Linked DNA regions of Homo sapiens. The protein of the gene in region 3 purifies or fractionates together with the protein of the main gene of each other region. This does not show direct contact. Each region holds a gene or a part of one and is shown on either strand. Other genes may lie near its edges.

Region 1 (7,000 bases), on a different chromosome or scaffold from region 3:
AGGCAGAGGTTGCAGTGAGCTGGTATCGCACCACTGCACTCCAGCCTGGGTGACAGAGCGAGATTCTGTCTCAAAAAAAAAAAGAAAATATTCAATTTTAAAAATTAGGCGAAGTTTCGATGCAAAAACATACAAGGTGGGAGATTCCTGGTGCCAACAATATGTGTGGGAAGGGAATAGTTACAGAGTAAACACTTCAAAACCATTTGCTAAATTGTAAATGCAAGTATTACCCATTTCTCTGTAGATTTTATTTCAAAATAAAAACGTTAATTTTTAAAAGAGGCAATGCCTCAGCTGGTATTAAAAAAAAAAATGACTTTTGTTTGGTTGGTTTAGGTTTGTTGTTTTGGTTTGGTTTTTGCATATGCACAAAATAAAAGAGGCTGCCAGTGACTTCCTCTGCAGAGGGAAAAGGATATTAGGAAGGTTAGTGAAAAACAAGGAATAAGACATTCAAGAATTCAGGGCCCAGAGAGCTGAAAATGTAAACTGTGAGCTTCACAAGCCAGCAAAGTGGCCTGTACGTGATGTATTGATCTCTGTGCCTCAGTACTTCTCTCTTGAAATCAAAGTACCTGTGGTCTGTCTTAGATAGGTTAGGATTAATGTCTAATCCACAGTAAATGCTTTAAAGGTCCTCAGTGAAAAGATGTTCTGAAATAGTAGTCTTATCCATCTCCTTTGTGAGTAAATCAGAATAAAATATGTTATCAGACTCCCATATCTGCTGATCCTCATTAAAGAAATATACAGAAGAAATATCCAAACTGTATCTAACCTTAGATACAAGTGCTTCTCACGCTTTGTAGTTCAATCAAAGGACTAACATCAGAGTGATGCTAAGCAGCCTGGTTTGCTGGGACACAGTTAGATAGTCTGCAAATCACTCATTTCTGTGTTCACAAGCATATTTCTCAACTCCACAAGGGTATTAGTTGCACAGAACAACATTTAACATCAAGCGAACTAGTCTATTATGCAGCTACTCATTTCAGTAGAATCAGCATCAATAAAAGATATCAAATGACAGCAATTGATACAGACTAAGAGAGAGACTAGAAAGGGGAGAGTCTACAGCAAGATAATAAAATGCACAAGACAGAAAATCTATATATGCATGGAAGGAACTAACGCTAAACAGACAGCAAGCCTAGGTGCAAAGGCCACTAATCTTAACAGTCTGTGAAATTTCTATGTTGTTATTCTGCCTTCACAATTAACTTGTTTACTAGCTTTCTTGAACGAGTTGGTTTTTTTTCTCTAGGAAGTCATTTTCTTACATTCTAGACCTTGGTCAATACTAGGAAATAGTGCTCGTCTCAGCAGCACATATACCAAAATTGGAATGATACAAAGAAAATGATCATGGTCCCTGTGCAAAGACAACAGGCACGTTCGCGAAGCATTCCATTAAAACACACACACACACACACAAACACACAGGGAAATAAAAAATTTTGTTTACATGCCAGTAAACATTGGCACAACATTTTTTTAAATCCATGGACTCAGATGAGCCATAGATCAGCTGAATAGCTATACAAAATTGACTGGTTATTATTATCCTGGATCAGTGATCACCATGAGTGGATTTTTCACTTATCAGGGTGATTTCTGACCTGCTTTTGGATAACATCCAATTAAGACAGATTGCCTTTTGAACCAGCAGAAGGTGTTGAATTGCATACTGTTTCCCATCTGGCTGGTGAAACTGTGGCCATGTGGGCATAGTGTAGGAAGCTTTCTGGATAGGTAGTCTATGGCCAGTTGAACCCACCCCAAAGACACCTTGCCCAGCTGGGAACCCAGAAACAATCAGCAGACAAATAGGTCCACACGAGGCTGACCCAACAAGCCCTCCCAGAGGCAATCAATTTGTCAAATGATCAATTCACCAAAAATGTGTTTCTATTAACTCTTTATAAAATTTACAGCAATTGAAGTGGCATAAGATAGTTTTAACGGCTTATGAGAATTTTTTTTAGCCATTCATTTTGACTGTGCCTTTGCTGTGGCTTCTTTTTCCCATAGGCATCCTAAATCCATGCTGCCATATATTTTGGTGCTAGAGGGAGAGCCATCCACACCCTGGGTCTCTTTGGGTAAAACCATTTAGCATGACAAAGATACATTTCCCTAAGATTCTCTGGAATCCTGGGATAACTCTTCAGGTTATCCCAGGATCCCAAAGGCCTGAATTACTGAATCCTCACTCCAAACCTTTTTTTTCAAACCAATACTACATGTCTAAATTTAAATCGCCAACATATTCATTGACCTGGGTGAGGTCTTAAAATATTTTTACCAATTAAACTAGCAGGAGGAACTTCTAGAAAACAAAAAGAAATAAATAAGTAGGTAGTAAAGTGACAGACTTAGTGTAGGGAAAAAATACCAGTTCAGTTGCATCACTCCTGGATGATAGAAATGTGGTGGATATATACACCATGGAATATTACTCAGCCCTAAAAAAGAGCAAAATAATATCTTTTGCAGCAACTTAGATGGACCTGGAGGCCATTGTTCTAAGTGAAGTAACTTAGGAATGGAAAACCAAATATTGTATGTTCTCCATTATAAATGGGAGCTAAGCTACGGATACACAAAAGCATACAGAGTGGTATAATATAATGGACTTTGGAGACTCAAAGTGGGAGGCTGGGACGGAGAGTGAAGGATAAAAAACTACATAATGGGTACAATGTATACTACTCAGGTGATGGGTGCGCTAAAATTTCAGACTTCACCACCATACAATTCATCCATGTGTCTAAAAACCACTTGTATTAGTCCATTTCACACTGCTGTAAAGAACTACCTGAGACTCAGTAATTTATGACGAAAAGAGGTTTAATTGACTCACAGTTCCTCAGGCTTAACAGAAAGCATGACTGGGAGGCCTCAGGAAACTTACAATCATGGCGGAAGGTGAAGGGGAAGAAAGGGCCTTCTTCTCATGGTGGCAGGAAAGAGAGAGAAGGTAGAACTGCCACATACTTTTAAACCATCAGATCTCATGAGAACTCACTATCATGAGAAAAGCAAGGGGGAAATCTGCCCCCATGATCCAATCACCTCCCATCAGGACCCTCATCCAATTCAACATGAGATTTGGGCAGGACACAAATCCAAACCATATCAACACTTGTACCCCAAAAGCTATTGAAAATTTTTTGAAGTTTTTAATTTAAAAAAATGTGGCACCCCTGAGGCTGTGGCTCGTTTGAGGAATTCTCCCAAAGGAAATTCCCAAGATATGATCCTGTGTGTGATGCTACAAAAGTACACCGTGATTTGTCCTGCCTTGTGGGTATAGGGACTAATAATGTTCCCAAACAATGCTTTTCCGTTCCAGAGGGATTATACTATTTAAACAAAAAGCAGAAACACAGGGTTGATGGTGTGAAGGAAAGGGAATTTATGAGATTTAACAATCTAGCCAGGTGCGATGGCTCATGCCTGCAATCCCAGCACTTTGGGAGGCCGAGGTCTTTTATCAACAATTTGCTCAAGTCTTCTAAAATAAAAACTATGAAGAAGGAAATCTAAATGTAACCCTGAAGGGCTATAATTTAAGAGATGTGAATCATTTTATACACTAATTCTAACAACTGTCCCTGAAAACTTACCTATGAGGTAATTTCTGTATTATAAGTCCCATGTCATAGAAAAGTGTTCCAATGGAGAGAATCTAGGTAATAAATCATGCCTAAATCTTTAAAATTACATTTTGTCTATAATATATAAAGGTCAATGTTGAACAAAATAAATATATGACAGTAATTATAGTGAATATTTTGATATTTATGCCTTTTAATGACATGAAGAAAGATAACACAATGTTTTTAAAGTCTAACAATTCTTTCACCAGAATGTTTAATAGGAATAATTCATGGCTTTCTCTGACTAATCAGATCCTGCCTTTTTAATGAAAATTCTAAGCCTTGAAAAGAGAGCAAGCTGACATAAACTAAAAAGATGGAGAATGTGAATTTACAATGGTTAAAACTCAGCAATTCATGAGCAACTTGAGAAGTACATTTATTAGAGCTCATAAAATAGTAAGCAATAACAGGGAGTGTGTATACTGAAACAAACAGCCAAAGAGATTGAAAGAAATGTAGTCACAGGCTCTTCTGGCACAAATTCATTGCCTTTATTCTGATGAGCTTCTCTTCATGGGATTTACGGACACTGAATTATATCCAGACTCTGCTAACTTCTTGGTTTTCTCCCTCCTATCGCCTAATGACTCTTTAAGCTACTACATGAGTCTAATCCATGGGCATCCTGAGCTTCACAAATTCACGTCGCACCCAGCGAGAAACCCACCGTCTTCACTGAGTCATTCAAAGCTTCCCACTGCTGGAATGGCATCGACATCTGGCTCCTTCGCCAGTGGTCATAGCGGGCTCGACTCTCTTCATTGGTCAGAATCTCCTTTGCCTTCTGCAGTTTCTGAAAAGTCTCCACTGGAAAACAAATCAAGAAATGAGCACTTCTCTCTCGGAGAGGATATTTTAAACTCCAAAACTATCCAACTGCTCTTACTAAAACCATGACTGCCACTTAATAGCTATGTGACCTTGGGCCAATTTACCTCATTAAGCTTTTGTAAAGGGTATCATAAGGACAAGCAAGATCATGGATGTAAAGTGCTCGGCACAGTTTATCCACTCCCTGTATTGTGCCTCAGTCATGTGCCAGAGGCTACTCCCGGTGCTGATGACACAGATGTGAATAATAGACATTATTAGCAGGGGAAAGAAACATTTGTAAACATTGAAAAAATACTATTCCACCTTATAGGAAGAAAACTACCTTTTTTAGTGCTGGGTGTGAAACAGGGCAGTAATTAGGCAAGAGGGACAGTAAAACTGAAGACTATAAAGACTATAAAACTGAAGACTATAAAGACTATAAAGACATGACTGAGGCACAATACAGGGAGTGGATAAACTGTCCCAAGCACTTTACATCCATGATCTTGTTTGTCCTTATAAAGCAGGAAGGAGCACGGTGACTTAGAGGAAGTAGTAATTGCCAGTGTGGCTGGAGGACACAAGGCTAGGGAAAGAACGATGAGGGATGGGGCTGTAGAGTAGACAGACAATAGCTCAATCAACCAGGGCCTGAGATGTCATGTTAAGGATGCTGGCCTGCTTTTTGTCGTAAGAGAAACGGGAGGCTTTAAGTATAATAAATAACATGGTAGATGCTGGGACAAATGGTAGCTTGTCACTAATCTACTTGACCAGATGGTATATAATAGAAACCTTTTATGGCTCTGTTAGAAACACCTCCAAAGTCTCTTCTGCTCCTCAGTGAAGTAAAAACTTTCTGCAGAGCAGAATACAAGATTTATATACAGGCCGGGTGCAGTGGCTCAGGCCTGTAATCCCGGCACTTCGGGAGGACAAGGTGGGTGGATCACGAGGTCAGGAATTCAAGACCCAGCCTGGCCAAGATGGTGAAACCCCATCTCTGCTAAAAATACAAAAAAAAAAAAAAAAATAGCTGGGGGTGGTGGCAGGCGCCTGTATTCCCAGCTACTCGGGGGCTGAGGCAGAGAATTGCTTGAACCTGGGAGGCAGAGGTTGCAGTGAGCCGAGATTGTGCCACTGGACTCCAGCCTGGGCGACAGAGCGAGACTCCATCTCAAAAAAAAAAAACAAAAAAAAGTAGCCAGGCACGGTGGCCCAGGCCTGTAATCCCAGCTACTCAGGAGCCTGAGGCAGGAGAATCGTTGGAACCCGTGAGGCAGAGCTTACAGTGAGCCGAGTTTGCACCACTGCACTCCAGCCTGTCCGACAGAGCAAGACTCCATCTCAAAACAAACAAACAAAAATTCATATGTTGAATTCTTAACTCCCAAAATGATAGTATTAGGAGATGGGGCTTTTGAGATATGATTAGATCATGAGGGTGGAACCCTCACGAATGGAATCAGTGCCCTAATAAAAGAAACCCAGACAACTCGCTCACTCTGTTTCCCCCATGTGAAAACACAGCAAGAAGACAATTAGCTAGGCATGGCGGTGGGCGCCTGTAATCCCAGCTATTTGGGAGGCTGAGGCAGAAGAATCTCATGAATCTGGGAGGTAGAGGTTGCAGTGAGCCAAGATCACACCACTGCACTCCAGCCTAGATGACAGAGCGAGACTCCGTCTCCAAAAAATAAAAAATCAATATACAAATATCAGTGGTGTCTCTACACAGTAGCAATGAACAATCTGAAAATGAAATTAAGAAAATTCCATTTATAAGAGCATCAAGAGCCGGACCCAGTGGCTCATGCCTGTAATCCCAGCACTTTGGGAGTCCGAAGTGGGCGGATCACGAGGTCAGGAGTTCGAGACCAGTCTGGCCAACATGGTGAAACCCCGTCTCTACTAAAAATACAAAAAAAAAAAAAAATTAGTTGGGTGTGGTGGCAGGCGCCTGTAATCCCAGCTACTCAGTAGGCTGAGGCAGGAGAATCACTTGAACCTGGGAGGCGGAGGTTGCAGTGAGCTGAGACCATGTCATTACACTCCTGCCTGGGTGACAGAGCAAGACTCTGTCTCAAAAGAAAAAAAAAAAAGCTTCAAGAAGAATATAATATTTTTAAAAAATTGAACAAAAGAAGGAACTACACAATATTGTCAAAAGAAGCTAAAGAAGATCTAAATAAATGAAAAGACATCCCACGTTCATAAAGATTTACTATTGCTAAAATGATAATACCCCCCAAACTGATCTGCAGATTCAACATAATCTCTATCAAAATCCCAGTTGCCTTTTTTGCAGAAATTGACAATCTAGTCCTAAAATCTGTTTGCAAATACAAGGGACCCAGAATTGCCAAAAAAAAAAAAAACTCTTGAAAAAAATAAGAGCAAAGTTGGAGAATTCACACTTCTGAATTTCAAAACTTATACTACAAAGCTACAGTAGTGAAAACAGTGTGGTACTAACATAAGGATAGACATACTTATAAATGGAATAGAATTGAGAA
Region 2 (7,935 bases), on a different chromosome or scaffold from region 3:
ATACAATATTTATTATTCAACTTTTCTCCCTCCTCCTTCATTTTCAGTTGTATTTGTTTGTCAGAATATAATGTATATTCTGCAACGCTTGTCACCACCTTTGTTTTAGTCTTAGATTCTCAATTAAACATTCAATTCTCACCATCAGTTCTTTTGCCAAAAATGAAAATGACCCCAGTCATCTCTTAGGTGGATGAAGCTTATCTTCTGTTAGATTCCCCAGGAAAGTCTTGTAAGTGTGATATTCTCTGAGTTCTTGCATATTTATTTTTTACAGCCTTGATACCTGAAGGATAGCTTGGCTGGCTTGGTTGTAAAATACTTGTTGTGTCTTGCATACACTTGAGTGTCTTTAAAATACTACTCTCCTTGTTATTCTTTTTGTATTTTGCTGCTAGGAAGTCTGATGTCAACCTGGGTATTTTTTGTTTGTTCTAAGTAACAGATTTTTGTGGGTAGGAGGTATGGAAAAGGTTGGACCCCTAAACATTTTGAATGTTCTTTAAAGTCTGTAGATTTGCTGGGATATGTTTTAAAGTTGACTGTTCTGGGTCAATTTTCCCAGACACACAGTGGGCTCTTTCCATATTATATCCAAGTCTTTTATTTCTAGAATGTTTTCTGGTGTTAAACACATTAATACTGTCCCATATTTTATTTATTTTGTCTTTATTTCTTTGGGCATCTCCAAATATATGTAAGTTTTCTTTGCCTAACTTCCATATTAATTTCCATCTAATTCTTTTTACTACTTTCTATATTTAGTTTTCATTCTCTTAGCTGTTTCATGCCTTTCCTCAATGCCGAATATATTTTCAGCTCAATCTATTGTTCTTTAGCTAACTTGTAATTGAGTCTTTATACGAAAATTTTGGCTTTTTCTTCAATTTCTTTTCTGAGTTTAGTAAACTTTCATTTCACAGCATGCAGTTTTTTATCCATTTTGGCTTTAAGTTTTTGAATTTCTGATTTAAGGTGTTTTGTCTTATCTGCAAATGTTTAAGGACATTTAATTCAGATTGGTAGATTGTGTAACAATTTTCTTCTGCTTCATGACTGTTTTTTGAGGGAGAATATTCATTACGTGAAATGTTTTGATTTTCATTTTCTATTTTCTTCCTGTAGTAGTTGTGTACAAATGTCAGCTTCCATGTTTGGTTCATTTTTGTAAGGTCTTATTTTTTCTCAATCAGCAATAATAGGTGTGAAGGTTTGGGGAGGCTTACTAAATTTCTTAGATTAAGAGCACCATCTTTTATTAGTGAAGTGGTTATTTTGGAAGAGGGAAGAAGGTGTATATTTGATTTTGTGATTCTCATTCCCATTTCTCGTGTCTTTCTTTCCTTCACCACCAGTCCTCTAAAGGGTACCTCCTCCTTTTAGGCCATGCCCATCTCCCCGAGAAGCAATGCTTTCCCAAGGTTACTACCTATACTCCTATATATCTGAAGTCTCTTATTTTTGATCCTCCAAGTAAACAGAGTTCTAATCTACCACATCTCAGACCTGTTCTCAGTATGTCTTTGATGAGGGTAGGTCCTTCTCCTTCTGGGGGGTTACTTTATCTGTGGTATTATTGCTAGGCCCCTGCTCCATCTTCTCTTTTTACAGTCTCCTCTGTGATGCTGGCTCCGCTGGATTTGGTGTTTATATGCCCATTGCCATGCCATTTGAACCTTGCAGTATTCTGTCTACCAAATGAGATTGTTGTGAGAATATCTGCATTCATTGTTTGTACAGGGTTTCTTTGTGTGTTTGTTTTTGCTTTTGAGAATGTGTGGAGAGATTCAGATTTAGGCAGTTGGGCTTATTCTACAGGAGCCCAGAACTCCTCAGAAAGTCTGACTTTAGACAGACCTTCTAGGAAAAAAAAAAAAAAAAAAAGCAAACCTAACAATGTCTCTTACATTATCTCATCTACATGGAAAGGATTCAAAGGATAGTGGAGAGGTACAAACCGAGAAAAACTTGAGGAAGGCTCAAAACTCTTGCTGCAAGTAAAATGGGGTAGCTTACCTGAGTAAGGTTCCATTGCAGCTGCTGAGCTGGCTGGACCCCATACACAGTCTGGGGCATAGCTGCCATGCCTGCCATGTAGCCAGCCTGCTGGGTGGTCATCATTCCATTCGGCACACCCATCATTGATGCCTGCATGCCACCCATATAGCCTGCAGGCATGGCCATGGGGGCAACCATCCCAGAAGCTCCTGGCTGAGCAACCATGCCTACTGGTGGAGGCATCATGCTCCCCATTATGCTGTTAGGAGGTGTAACCCCGGGGAAGCTGGGGTAGGCTGTGGGATATGCCATCTGAGCGGGAGCCATGAACATTGCTGCCAAGAAAACACACATACAGGTTGGTTAAAGAGGGAAAAACATAAAGTCAGCCCGAACTCTCCCTGGCTAACCCTTTCCAGCTGGAATTTCTCAGGATTACTCTACTCACAATGCTCTTTACACAGCAAAGTAGTTAGAGTCCCTACGAGGCCTGCTATAGCTTACCAATGGGCTGCTGACCGAGCCATTTTCCCTTTAGGGTCCAGATCCAGACCTTGAGCTAGACTTCACCGAATTGTGACCCCAGACTCCACAGAAGTATGACTCTGAGTTACATTAATTTCCATCTGCTGATACGTTGGTCATGTTCAGGTTTGTTTGGTGTATGACATCCTGGCCCCCAAAGCAACTGTCCTCTGTCACAATAAATAATTCCTGCATGGAAGCCCTCATGTCTCTACCTGGCACATGGCCATGACACCCATGAAATCTACCTTGAGTAGGCATTTGAGGCGTCTGGGATCCATACAGTGAAAGAATGGAGTCTTTAGAGAGCTGTTTCTTGCCTATTTCTTCTGATTTGCTCCCTGGCTCCGGAAACAGGTTCAGATTTTCAGGAACAGAGCCGGCACTCCCTGCAGTTGGCATGGAACCTACAACCTTAGGGCAAAGAGGGCGGGGGGAGAATTGAAATGGTTCTCATGGGGGTCTCTTTAAGGGTCTCCCTTCCCTCTCTGCTGCTCCTAACATCTGCAATAAGAATTCATGGCTCAAGTTAATAGCTTCCTAACATTTTTACCATTCAACTATCTGAACACACCTGATAATTAAGCTCTGTTACAATTCTTTCCTTTCACCAAAACATGTGATTTGGTAGGAACAAACAAACAAAACAACCCACAAATGATGCAGCAGAGGGAACTGAGTTTAGACCCCAGTGTAGCCATTTACTAGTATAACCACAGGCTAGTCACATAACTTTTACAAACTAATGTCTCCACATCTGTAAAATTTCCACTTTGCAGGTTTGTGGTGAAGGAGTGAAATTATTAATGAAATATACAAAATGATATACAAAAACCACCTCACACTGTGCCTGAGACATAGCAGGCGTTTCACGAATGGTAGCCATTAAAGGTTTCAAGTCTTTCCTACCTACAATTTTCTGGCAGTAACTCAGGCCGAGGAGCTAGCCTCAAGTATCAGCCTTCACAGTATCACACACTTTCCAGAGAAGCAACTCAAATGGCCCACCCTTTTTGAGCAGGAGAAAAAAAGGCATGAACAGCAATCTTAGACTGTGACAGAAATGACACAATGTTAAGGGAAGAATGAAGAATCAAGAAAACCAAAGTCCAACTCCACCAAGGAAGCATGACGTGGTTCCATGATTAAGATATCAAAATCACCCATTTCAGAATGTTCTTTAATCCTGAGGAGCCCACAAGACTCACCTTTCTGGAACCGGAAGAAGAAGGGGATGGAACAGAGGCCAACAGATCTAAATCCTTCTCTAGGGTATTGCTGGTCTTACTATTTGCAATGGAGCAGGCCACAGGAGCATCTAGAAAGAGAGATCGAAGTTAAGATGCAGCACTGCTTATTAAGCCCATGCCTTCCTTCTATTCTAGACAAAAAGCAAAGGTGGCCCATAAGCTCATGGACCTAGAAATCTAGACTTCTGGAACCATCTAGCATGGACGGGGCTTCTCAAAAGAGGCTTCACCCCACATTCCCAGAGTGCTCTGGGGAAGCCTGTAGCCCAGCTATCAGGCACAGGGCAGCAGACGCCCAGGCCTGAAGGGTATTTCAGCACCACAGTGGGGGGCTGGCTGGCTCCCTTCTGGCTATTTGAAGGGCAAGGTATGGAGGAGGGTTCATTTTCAGAGAGCAAGGAAAGGTACAGAAATTAGAAGCCTAAGTAGCCAATAACCTCAATCAGCAGAAGCGGATGGAAACAAAGTGCAACCATCAGTGCTGTGAAAGGCAGACAACAGGCTTTCTTTCTGAAAGGGCAGAATCACTAGTTCAGGATTTCAAAGGTTTGGAGAAAAATGACCACAGGCCATCTCAGAAACAGGTTGCATCTGAAAAATGAAAGGAATGGGGGCAGGGAGTGGAGTACAGGGAATTGACATGAGGCTCAAAGGTGCTGTTTAGCAAAACTGCTAACATTTATGGAGGGCTCAGTATGTGCCAGGCATGGGGCTAAGAGCTTTAGAGGCATTATCTCATTTAATCCTTCCAACAACACCTTTGAAGTAGAGACTCATTCTCACTGCACGGATTATGAAAGCAACATTCAGAGGTTAAGTAAACTACCCATGGTCACACAGACAGTAAGTAACACAGAGCGACACTGGCTCCAAAGGCCATGCTCTTAACCACTACACCACACTGTCGCTCTGAAAAGTGTCACAGTAAACACTTCCTTAGAGCAACTGCTCAGATGTAAAACAGATCAGGAAGAATGTGAGAGAACAGTCTTGGCAATGAAGACAAAACTGGAGAACCCCATCTCTACCTATCTTCCAGGGTCACTGAGAATTTATCAAAATTTGTAAGAACATGGAAGCTGAAAAGTCCAACTCTTACCAAGGCCCAACAAATCCATGACAGGCGCTGTGGATTTCGGGGAGCTTTTCCGAGGTAGCTGTGGGTCTTCTTTTTTCTGTGGCTAAGGTGAAAATATGTTATAGCAAGAAATAAGCAGGTGGTTTTGAACTCTTTTCCCATCTCCACTGTAAAGCCACGGTGTTCTTGTGGGTAGGGCTGCTGTTATTCAAAGAGAGTTACCAAAGAAACAAAACTCAGGAAGTATTAGGTGAAAGAATCAAGTCAGGAGGCAGAAGTGCATAAACCAAACCTAAAATGAAAAACAAAGATATCGCCTGTGATTGTCTGGTGTCCTAAAGAGACAGATCTTTCTGAAACCAAGACAACCACAGAACAGGGGATCCAACAGAAGCAGCAGTTTTTGGTCCCAGGAAAAGCCAAGAATAAAGGTAGGTATCTGATGGTACAAGAGCCAAGAGCCAACAAATCTCCCAGTGGTTAGAAAACCTTTTACTTTAACACCAAAAGGGAGGTTGGTTTAAAGATTACCTAATTCACTCTGCCAGTATCACTAGTGATTGTGTCCACAGACAATGTGATTCAGAACGATGATAAAAGACTCTTCCTTAAGCAATAGTAAGTAAAGTCCTCTCTCCCAAGATTCCAAGTTTTTATGTTAGAGATTCTACTACTACAGCCACAATATGTCCTGTGGAAAAAGAAGGGTGTCTGTTTCAACATGACAAAGCAAGAACATAAGAAGGGATCACTTAAAATGGACTAATATGGCCTCACTTCTGGACTGTTCTTCATTGAAATCAGAAAATGGGATACAGAAGGTCTAACAAGAGAAGGACTAATGTGGAAATAGCATCTGCTCAGATGGTGTCCCTCAGCCTTGGCATTCTGGCTTGGAATGTGCCTCTTGCTTAGATGGAACAGATGCATTTCCTGAGTTCTCATCTGGCCCCAAAGCGAAGCCCTTACAGAGCAGATTTAGGCAGCAACTGGTAACGAGAGAGCAGAAATGATAGCAGGCAGTCCAATCCAGATGCAGAACCCTTTAGCCCCAGCTGTGATGGTGCAATGGTACTCACCACGAGACCTCCTACTTTCCCTTTCACAAATATACACATACCTGAGGCTGTCCATACAGTGCAAATACTTCCCAACTTACCATTTTCACCTTCTCAAAAACAACAGGTTCCAATTTTTTTTCTGGAACTGGTTCGCTCCCTCTTTTCCACTTGTCATCTTTTTCTTTCTATAATGATTTAACAAGACAAAGAACACAGGGCCCAAGGTGACTAATAGTTGGATAAATCATAATTCCAAGTGTCCGAAAAGGACACCTCCAATCCCTATTGATTCTGACGTAAGTGTCTGACAAGCTTGGGGGGCGGTGTCTTGGTGTGGAGCATGAGAGTTGACCTCTTCCACATTGGCCTCAATGCTGTACGAGGCGTCTTCCAAACACCTTAGGCGCCCGCCCTCCTAACCCACTCATGACTGTTGACATTTGCAGTCGAGGCTATGTACAGACGCTAAAACATTTTACCAGTATGCTGCCCACCTGTGCCCCAAATTTAATTTGCCCATGCTTTGAGAGGTCTCCCCTCATATCAGTATACTAGTGAATAAGTTCATCTTACTCAGCTTATGTCCTTTGTGATATCATAAATTCAATCATAGGTCCTCTCAATATTCATTTTTTTAACAGTCAGAAAATAAACCTTAATTTCAAGTTTACAGATTAGAAGAACAAAAATTAAGTTTTAAAATCAAATAAACATCTAAATGTAAAACAAAACCACAAAGTAACCTTAAGAATACAGAGTATAGCATACATATGAAAAACATGTTTGGTCTTGCCAGTGATAAAAAATGCAATTTAAAATGCACTTTATGCAGGGAGAAAGATCTTTCTATAATGGTGGGAGGGATGAAGTGAAACCAGTACTCTTATACAATGCTGAGAAGAGAGAGTAAAATGGTACAAATTCTGGAAAGTATATTGGCAAAACTAGGAAGAGACAAATGTTGAAATCCTTTGACCTAGATGATACCATATCTTGTAATGTATCTTACGAAAATAGTCCAAAATATGAAAAAGGTTAAATGCACCAAGTTCACCCCAGAATTATTTATGCTAAAAAAAATTAAATAACATTTATGCCACAGAAGGGAAATGGTAAATAAATTATTACTTTCAGTGATTTAGCTACTCACTGAAAGATGATGCAACAATTAAAAATTATAAACACTATATAAGCAACACAGAAATATATGTTAAGTGGAATGAAGGCACGAGAAGTCTACATAACTGTATTATAATTATGCCTCCAAAAAGAAACTATTTAGAAAAAAAGGGGAACACACCAAGAAGATAATTATTAGCAAAGATAGTGAGAGTATGTATGGATATTTCACTTTAATTTTCATTTTCTCTAAAATAATTTTATAATCAATACATGCAGCTGTTTTTCTCATACAAAGTGTATGTCTTTAACACGACATTTCATTTAAGTTAAAAATGTTTTATCTGTCCATTATAAAAAGAATAGTTTTTAACAAAGCCAGTTTCTTTTCATTTGATATTAAACGTCTTCACTTAGCAAATACTAATTATTGGCATAAAAATCTTCACAAAATATGAAAAAAATCTAAGTACATTAAATAACAAATTCTGAAATAGCTTTTTGGTAAATGGGAGGTTATTTCCTTCCTAAGAGAAACATCCGGTAACCGGGCTTGCTTTCATGGGTACAGTATACCAGCAATGAAATCATGAATACCCTGAGGGCAGAGCTGCTGTTTCCACAATAGCTGTGTACAAATAGCAACTCTACTCCTTCGTCATCTGAATTATCTCAGATACCCTTTTCTGACCTCATCTGAGTTCATATCTTTAGGCACAATGAACAGAGCTGGGCAGACAGACCACAGTTTTCTACAAATAAAACGAAATGTGTATGCTTGGGTTCTAAACTGTTTTTGATGATGCCATGCAAGCTGTAGCTGCACACTGGGTTCTTTCTTGGCACAGATATGATATTGACAAGTCCCTTTTCTGGATAACTGCAAGGTAAGAGTCCTTCATAC
Region 3 (7,946 bases):
TGTGTTAAGAAGGGACCCTGGCTGGTCACAGAGACTCACAGGACCATTCCCATGGGGTGGGCTGCTAGCCCCTCCTAGCCTCCAGGCCTTACCAGCAGGAGCAGAGCCACAGTCATCAGGATGGCACAGCCACACATGCCCGCCAGGCCCAGGAGATGGAGCGTCCGGCGCCCCGCCCGCTCCACCAACAACACCTGCGGGGAGAGTCGGAGCTTGACCCCAGCCTTTTGGGCACGGGAAGTAGGAGGGGCCGCGTGGGTGAGGGCAACCAAGAGCAGGACCTCCGGGACACCCAGGGAGGTGAAGCCAGTGGCTCGGGCCATTCCAGAGGTGAGCAGTTACCGAGACCAAGGTGAAGACTGTGTTGACCACACCAGCTCCTATGGTGGCATAGGCAGGCTGGCCTACCCCTGCTGTCTCGAAGATGCTGGTCGAATAATAGAAAACCTAGAGGTGGGGGAGAAGAAGAAGTGATGGCAGGAATGCCCCTTCCTCTACTCCAGCCACAACAGGCTGGCCCTACCCTGGGTGTTGGTGGAGGGGGTTTGCTCCCCACTCTCGTCTACCCTCCCGGGGCTGTGCCCTGCCTGGAGGCTGCTCCACACATACAGCATTGATGCCAGAGAGCTGCTGGCTCAGCTGCAGCACGACCGCAATGATCAGGGGCTGCCGGTGGGTACGGCTGCCCAGGAGCTGGAGCAGGGACAGTGGCCGCTCACGCTCCAGCTTCCGCTTCTCATCCTTCAGCTCAGCCAGCACTCCAGAAACATCGGCCCAGCCTGTCAGGCGCTTCAGACCTGGAGAAGGGAAGGTCAGGCCTGAGGGGACCTGAGAGGAAGCCAGGTGCTAGCAAGATGAGGCGGAGGCATGGGCCTGGGCCAGGCTGCAGCGGGAGAGCTTACTCTTTCTGGCAGGCCCCTCGAGATTCTGGATGATGTAGAGGTAGCGGGGGCTCTCGGGACAGAAGGGCAGCAGGACCAGCTGCAGGAGGGCAGGTAGCACTGTGAGGCCCAGGAGCAGTGGCCACAGGCTGGCAGTGCCCAGGAGGGACTCCAAGCCCAGCACCTGTGGGAGAAGGTTGGGAAAGAAGGCAGGTCACTCAGCCCTTCTGCCTTACCTTGGAAGCCCACCATATTCTCCAGAGCCCCACTCTAACCACTGCCCAGGCACCCATGAGGCTTGCTCCGGTCACCTGGGCGATCAGAATGCCGATAACAATGGCCAGTTGGTTGAGCGTCCCCAGGGCGCCCCGCAGGTGAGTGGGAGCAATCTCCCCCACGTACATGGGCACCAGCCCTGATGTCAGCCCTGGGCGAGGGAAGAAGAGAGGGCTGAGGGCAGGTGTCCATTCCCATCTGAAAGCCCAGGCATGGTGAAAGAGAACAGGGCGCTAGGCAGGGCTGTGGTGCCCGTGAGTACCTGAGTAGGCGCCAATGAGGAATCGTCCAAGGATGAGCATTTCATAGGAGGCAGCAGCATTGGCCAGGCCCATGAGGCTGCCCCCCAGCACCGCCAGGACATTGTTGACCAGCATGGCCCTTTTCCTGGCAGGCAGACAGAGTGAGGCTGTGAGGGTGAGGGCACCCAGCAGTGGCTCCCTTCCTGTTTCCCCCACCCCTGCCCTCCAGCTGCGAACCTTCCAAGCCACTGAGAGATGATACCAATGAGGAAGGAGGAAATCATGCCGCCCACGGAAAAGATGGCCACGGAGAGGGCCCAGAGGGTGGTGAGGGTGCCTGGAGGGATGGAGCTGGGTCCCTCAGGCCCCTGCCTCCCCAGCCACGTCTCATTGTAGCTCTGTTCAATCACCTGGGGGACAGCAGAGGACAGATTTCCTGCAGACCGTCCCCTTTCCACCACCCCCGAGACACCTGTCCTCCTCGTTTGGGTACCCCCACCCTGCCAGCTGCAGGCCCTCACCTTCTGAGGGGCATTGATGACCCCAATGTTGTACCCAAACTGCAGGGAGCCAAGCACCGCAGAGAACACAGCAAGGACCAGGGTCCCAGTCACTCGCTGCTGAGGGGGTTCCCCATCCTGAACAGGCAGACACAAAGACACAGCATGTCACATGGAACCATGATTTTTTTCCTTCCGCTAGGGGCCCGGGCCCAGCTGGAGCCTGAAGATACTGGGCTCCACCCAACATGTTGGGTGAGGGAAACTGGGCCATATTAGGAATTGCACAAAGATCTCAATGTAAACAGGAGCTGAACTGCAACCTGGGCATAAAGGAGAAACTGGATGTTTGGGTCCATAAGGCAGAGAAATGTTTGAGAACTTGTCTCAAAATTCTTCTGTGACCTTGAGACAGGCTTGGCCTTAAGAGCTCAGATTTGTGTGACCTTGGCCAAGTCACTTCCCTGCCCCGAACCTGAGTGTCCTCTGTGAGATGGGGGTGATGTTGCCTGCCTTGCCTACCTATCTGTGAGAGTGTTGTGAAAATCAACATCACATGTTAACAATATCCTTGACAGTGCTGGTTTCATAAATTAACACGTGCATTATTATCATCAGCCACTGTCCTCTTCCCTCCCCTCTGGGGGTTCTGTCAGCCAGCTCCAGGAGGCCCCCAACAGGACCAAGAAGTGCTGTTCCAGAAAGGACATCCCGGTCATCTAGGGGTGGCCTTCTCTATCTACGTCGTGGCCTGCCCTCCCCCTCTAACCTCCGTGCAGGGAGGGCCGTCCAGGGGTTCTGCCTGGGAGAGCCATGCCCAGGGGAGGAGGGCAGGAAGGTAGTGTGAGGGGCGGTGGCAGTGGTGGCCGCTCGCTGGCGGCACAGACTGTCTCCAAGCGGAAACCTGAGCTGGAGGAGGGGGGGCTGACAGTCCCCTCTGCCCCTCCACCAACCATGGGGCCAAGGGAAAGTTCAGCGTCCTGGAGGGCGGCCAGGAGTGGGGGTGGGGGCCCACGGAGAGCCTCCGGTCCTCGAAACACTGCCCGTGAGCGAAGACGGACGGACAGCTCCCGGAGGGCAAGACCCGCCTGGATCTGCTTTCCCGAGTCGGATCGAGGGCAGGGTGTCCCCGATTCCGGAGCGCCGCGCCGCCTACTAGGCAAGGGGGTGAACCCTGGCTCGCAGAATCCACTTGCTGCCTGTGCCCCGAAAGGCCCTCCAGACCCACTCTGCCTTTTGGTAGGATTGGAATCTCACAGTCACGGGTTGTCCAGGCCGGGTATAAATAGCCAGCCCCCTACCTTCACCCCCTGCGCCTGCGCAGGAACCACCCCCAGCTGACCCCAACCGCGACCCCAGCCCAAGAAAAGCGGGACCCGTGCCCCCCCGCCCCGCCCCCTCATGATGAATCCTACTTCGGAGCCTATCTGTTGGAAGCCCGACGGCATCTCGTCTTAGAAGAGCTGGACGCGCAGGGGCGGCGAAGATGAAAGAACCGATCCTGGAGTCTCTGACTCCGGCCTGGAGCGCAGAACCTGCGGAGGCCGCGGGGGTCCCGGAGTGACGTGCGAGGGCGGGCCCGATGGGACCCACAGCCACAAGCCAAGGACCCGGAGAGCAGTGGGGCTCCCGCGGATCTGGTGGAGCGGGGCTGGGGGAAAAGACGCGAGAAGCCCCCGCCACCTCGCTCCTGCCCCCGCGGGCCACGCCCTTCACAGCACCCATTGGCCAGGAGCCCGCACACCCCAGAAGGCCACGCCCCCTCCGCCTGGGGTTTAGAGTTTGGCTGGAGTTGGTGGGGCGGGCCAATGAGGCCACGCCCCTCCGCGTGGCTGGCGAGACACGCCTCTCGGGTTCCCGCCAGCCTCCGACTGGGAAGTTTTGAGAAAAGAGTCCCTGGAACAAAAGGCCCCGCCCACCCACGTGTTAGGACTCCGCCCACCAGCTAGGATCCCGGGCTGCAGAAGCATCTTAAACTCTGCGGGTCTGGACAGTGGGGTCTGAGAGGAGAGGACGGGCCAGGTGTACTTGCCCCGGGGAAACTCCAGCGGCCTGAGACGGCTCGCGAGCCGGCGCGCGGGTTGGGAGAGGAGCAATGCCCCAAAGTAACCCGGGGCTGCTATTTTTAGCTCCCACGTTGGGAGCCTCCAAATGTCAGGTCCCGGGCGTCCCGGCCTGTCCCAGGCGGGGGCGGAGAGACAGGGAGATGACGCCTTAAAGAGTCCGCGACATGCTTCCCACGCGAGTGTGGCCCTGGGGGCCAGGAAATTCCGTTCCCACAACGGGTCTGGTGGCCGGGCTGCTTGGTCCTGTCTTTCAGCGCCTCCCTGCTCCGGGCACTGTCTATCCCGCCCTTCCCCTACACACATTCCCCAGGTTGGTTCCTGGAGCCGGTCCGAGGGACAAGTGGTCACAACCGACCACACCACCAGCCCTGAGGTCTCTGAGCCTCTGAGGTCTCTGAGCATATGCTGGCCGCGTGAACGACACGCTCTCTGGAGGCTGCTCCGGGTTTGGATCCTCGGCCAAATTCTGCCAGGCAGAAAGTGCGCGACCTAGGGTCGGCGTGTGGGGAGAGAGAAGCCGAAATACCCAGAGCGTGGAGAGTGTCTGGCTCAGAAAACGGGCTTCGGAAGCGCAGGGTTGTGCTGCCACCTGGAGGGCGAGCGAGGAGCCGCAGTGGATTGCACTTGGAATCTCAACCCACTATTTCTCGCCTTTCCGCCACCATAGGGCTTCAGTGACATCTGACCCAGGCCCTTCTCTGGAGCTGCAGATCCAGGTGTTCGTTACCGCCCGGATGTGGCAGCTCTAGTGATCAGCATGTCCAAACCTGCTCCTCCTCCTAACTTCCTTATTTCAATGAATTACCCGCCCAGTCACCCCTATGGTAGAAGTCAGGCTCGATTCCTCCTGTCCTGCGCCGCTCTCCTCGTTTATCCAGTTAGTTTCCAACATTGGTGCTTTGACCTCCAAAACTCTCTCACATTCATCCGATATTCTCCGTGGCGGCTGCCACTTCAGTCCAGATCACCATCACCCTCACTGGTCTTCGTGCTCCTCTTATTTCCTTTATGACGAGGGCAGAGAACAATTTTCGAAGGTCCAATCTCATCTCTCAAGCAAGAAGTCACTGTCTCTGTTGCCCCAATTGCCAAGTTCAAATCCCTTTTCAGAGTGAACAAAACCTCCTGCCTCTCTTATCCGATCTCTGGCCTTACCTATCTCTCCTGCCTCTCCTTCTATCTCCTTCGCCTCCTGTTCTGGGCAATGCCTAAGTCCTTATTGTACCCAGAACACACTGTGCCTTTACATCCCTTCTTGATTCCTTTGCTGCACTAATCCCCTGAAAAATCTGGAATGCCGGCCCGGCCTGGTGGCTCATGCCTGTAATCCCAGCACTTTAGGAGGCCAAGGCAGGTGGATCGACTGAGGTCAGGAGTTTGAAACCAGCCTGGCCAACATAGAGAAACCCCATGTCTGCTAAAGATACAAAAATTAGCCGGGCGTGGTTATGCACACCTGTAATCCCAGCTACTCGGGAGGCTGAGGCAGGAAAATGGCTTGAACCCAGGAGGTGGAGGTTGTAGTGAGCCAAGATCGTGCCCTTGCACTCCAGCCTGGCGACAGAGTGACTCCGTCTCAAGAAGAAAAAAAAAAATCCGGAATTCCAAAGGACTCCTCTTCATCCTTCAAAGAAAGCTTCCTCACCCAGTTCCTGCTCCACAGGTTCACTTTGTTTCCGGCTTCTGGGGACCTTGATCCCTGAGTTCCAGCACAGAAGATTGAACGAATGACAGTTATTAGCACACTGTCTTCACTGATCTATGTCTCATTTTTATTTTTGTTTTTGTTTGTTTTGAGACAGAGTTTCGCTCTTGTTACCCAGGCTGGAGTGCAATGGCACAACCTTGGCTCACTGCAACCTCCATCTTCCGGGTTCAAGCCATTCTCCCGCCTCAGCCTCCCGAGTAGCTGAGATTATAGGCATGCGCCACCGGGCCCAGCTAATTTTGTATTTTTAGTAGAGATGGGGGATTTCACCATGTTGGTCAGGTTTGTCTCCAATTCCCGACCTCAGGTGATCCACCTGCCTCGGCCTCCCAAAGTGCTGGGATTACTGGCGTGAGCCACCATGCCCGGCGATTTTACTGGTTTTGAGTTGAGGTCTCTGTTGCTCAGGCTCGAGTGAGAGGCACAGTCACCGATCACTGCAGCCTAGACTTCCTGGGCTCAAGCGGTCCTCTCACCTCAGCCTCCCAAGTAGCTAAGACTACACGTTCGATTCACCACACCCAAATGCTTATTCCAATGCATTCAATTATTCCAGTGCATTAAATGTTCATTTTTTTCTTTGTGCTCTTACAAAATATAAATCATTTTGTGTGCAAAGTTTTTTTTTTTTTTCTTTTTATGAGACAGTGTCTCGCTCTGTCACCCAGGCTGGAGTGCAGTGGGGCGATCTCCACTCATTGCAGCCTCCGCTTCCCAGGTTCAAGTGATTCTCCTGTCTCAGCCTCCGGAGTGGCTGGGATTACAGGCTTGCGCCACTGTGCCTGGCTAATTTTTGTATTTTAAGTAGAGACGGTTTCACCATGTTGGCCAGGCTGGTCTTCAACACCCGACCTCAAGTGATCTGCCCACCTCAGCCTCCCAAAGTGCTGGGATTACAGGTGTGAGTCACCACGCCCGGCCCAAACATTTTAAATTTCCATAAATAGCATCTTGTTATATATTTCACTCTGATCTTATTTTCAGTAATCACGATGTTTTTAAAATCCACTCGTGGCCAGGCGTGGTGGCTCACGCCTGTAATCCCAGCACTTTGGGAGACTGACGCGGACGGATCACAAGGTCAGGAGATCGAGACCATCCTGGCTAACACGGTGAAACCCTGTCTCTACTAAAAATACAAAAAATTAGCCAGACGTGGTGGCGGGCGCCTGTAGTCCCAGCTACTCGGGAGGCTGAGGCAGGAGAATGGCATAAACCCGGGTGGCGGAGGTTGAGGTGAGCCGATATCATGCCACTGCACTCCAGCCTAGGTGACAGAGTGAGGGTCCATCTCAAACAAACAGACAAACAAACAAACACAATGAGATCAGGCTGGGCACAGTGGCTCACGCCTGTAATCCCACCACTTTGGGAGGCCAAGGCCGGCCAAACACCTGAGGTCGGGAGTTCGAGACCAGCCTGACCAACATGGAGAAACCCTGTCTCTACTAAAAATACAAAATTAGCTGGGTGTGGCGGTGCATGCCTGTAATCCCAGCTACTCAGGAGGCTGAGGCAAGAGAATCACTTGAACCAGGGAGGCAGAAGTTGTGGTGAGTTGAGATCGCGCTATTGCACTCCAGCCTGGGCAACAAGAGTGAAACTTCATCTCAAAAAAAAAAAAAAAAAAAAGAGAGATCAGTTACTTTGTCAGATTTAGGCATTGCAGATACCTTCTCCCATTCTATCATCTCTATATTAATTTTTCCTTCATGAACTTCATGAAATAGATTTTTTTTCTTTTTTCATATGGAGTCTGGCTCTGTTACCCAGGCTGGAGTACAGTGGTGCAATCTCGGCTCACTGCAACCTCTGCCCACCGGGTTCAAGTGATTTTCTTGCCTTAGCCTCCTGAGTAGCTGGGATTACAGGTGTGAGCTACCACATGCAGCTAATTTTTGTATTTTTAGTAGAGACGGTGTTTCACCATGTTGGTGAGGCTGGCCTGGAGCTCCTGACCTCAGGTGACCCACCCACCTCGGCCTCCCAAAGTGCTAGGATTATATGTGTGAGCCACCGCTCCTGGCCAGAATAGAAATTATTAATTTAAGTGTAATGAAAATGACCATTTTTTCCCCTTATGGTTTGCAATTTTTGATAATTTGTATATATTCTTTCCCAACTCTGCACCATAAATGCATTCTTCTACATTTTCTTCCAGTAACTTTATAGTTTTACTTTTCACATTTAAGTCTTCTTGATTCCTCTAGAATTCATCCTTGTTTTAGGTGTTAGGGATCCAATTTACTTTTCTCTTTAGTGAACCACTTTTA

What was found.
Region 1: the proteins of SLC2A4 (region 3) and DNAJC12 purify together in Homo sapiens (affinity purification with mass spectrometry; 3 studies listed by BioGRID and IntAct, with this or other methods). This does not show direct contact.
Region 2: the proteins of SLC2A4 (region 3) and SMAP2 purify together in Homo sapiens (affinity purification with mass spectrometry; 3 studies listed by BioGRID and IntAct, with this or other methods). This does not show direct contact.

The regions. Positions count from the first base shown.
Region 1 is NC_000010.11:67,807,189-67,814,188, forward strand, and holds part of DNAJC12 (dnaJ homolog subfamily C member 12), read right to left. Parts: intron 4,476-7,000; coding exon 4,336-4,475; coding exon of another isoform or gene 4,309-4,335; exon of another isoform or gene 4,020-4,308; intron 1-4,019. UniProt on the Homo sapiens protein: Probable co-chaperone that participates in the proper folding of biopterin-dependent aromatic amino acid hydroxylases, which include phenylalanine-4-hydroxylase (PAH), tyrosine 3-monooxygenase (TH) and peripheral and neuronal tryptophan hydroxylases (TPH1 and TPH2).
Region 2 is NC_000001.11:40,411,178-40,419,112, reverse strand, and holds part of SMAP2 (stromal membrane-associated protein 2), read right to left. Parts: intron 6,098-7,935; coding exon 6,011-6,097; intron 4,955-6,010; coding exon 4,873-4,954; intron 3,842-4,872; coding exon 3,732-3,841; intron 2,938-3,731; coding exon 2,772-2,937; intron 2,334-2,771; coding exon 2,017-2,333; intron 1-2,016.
Region 3 is NC_000017.11:7,277,336-7,285,281, reverse strand, and holds the start of SLC2A4 (solute carrier family 2, facilitated glucose transporter member 4), read right to left. Parts: upstream 3,565-7,946; 5' UTR 3,348-3,564; coding exon 3,315-3,347; intron 2,038-3,314; coding exon 1,921-2,037; intron 1,810-1,920; coding exon 1,637-1,809; intron 1,545-1,636; coding exon 1,420-1,544; intron 1,309-1,419; coding exon 1,193-1,308; intron 1,066-1,192; coding exon 903-1,065; intron 798-902; coding exon 610-797; intron 448-609; coding exon 343-447; intron 195-342; coding exon 93-194; intron 1-92. UniProt on the Homo sapiens protein: Insulin-regulated facilitative glucose transporter, which plays a key role in removal of glucose from circulation.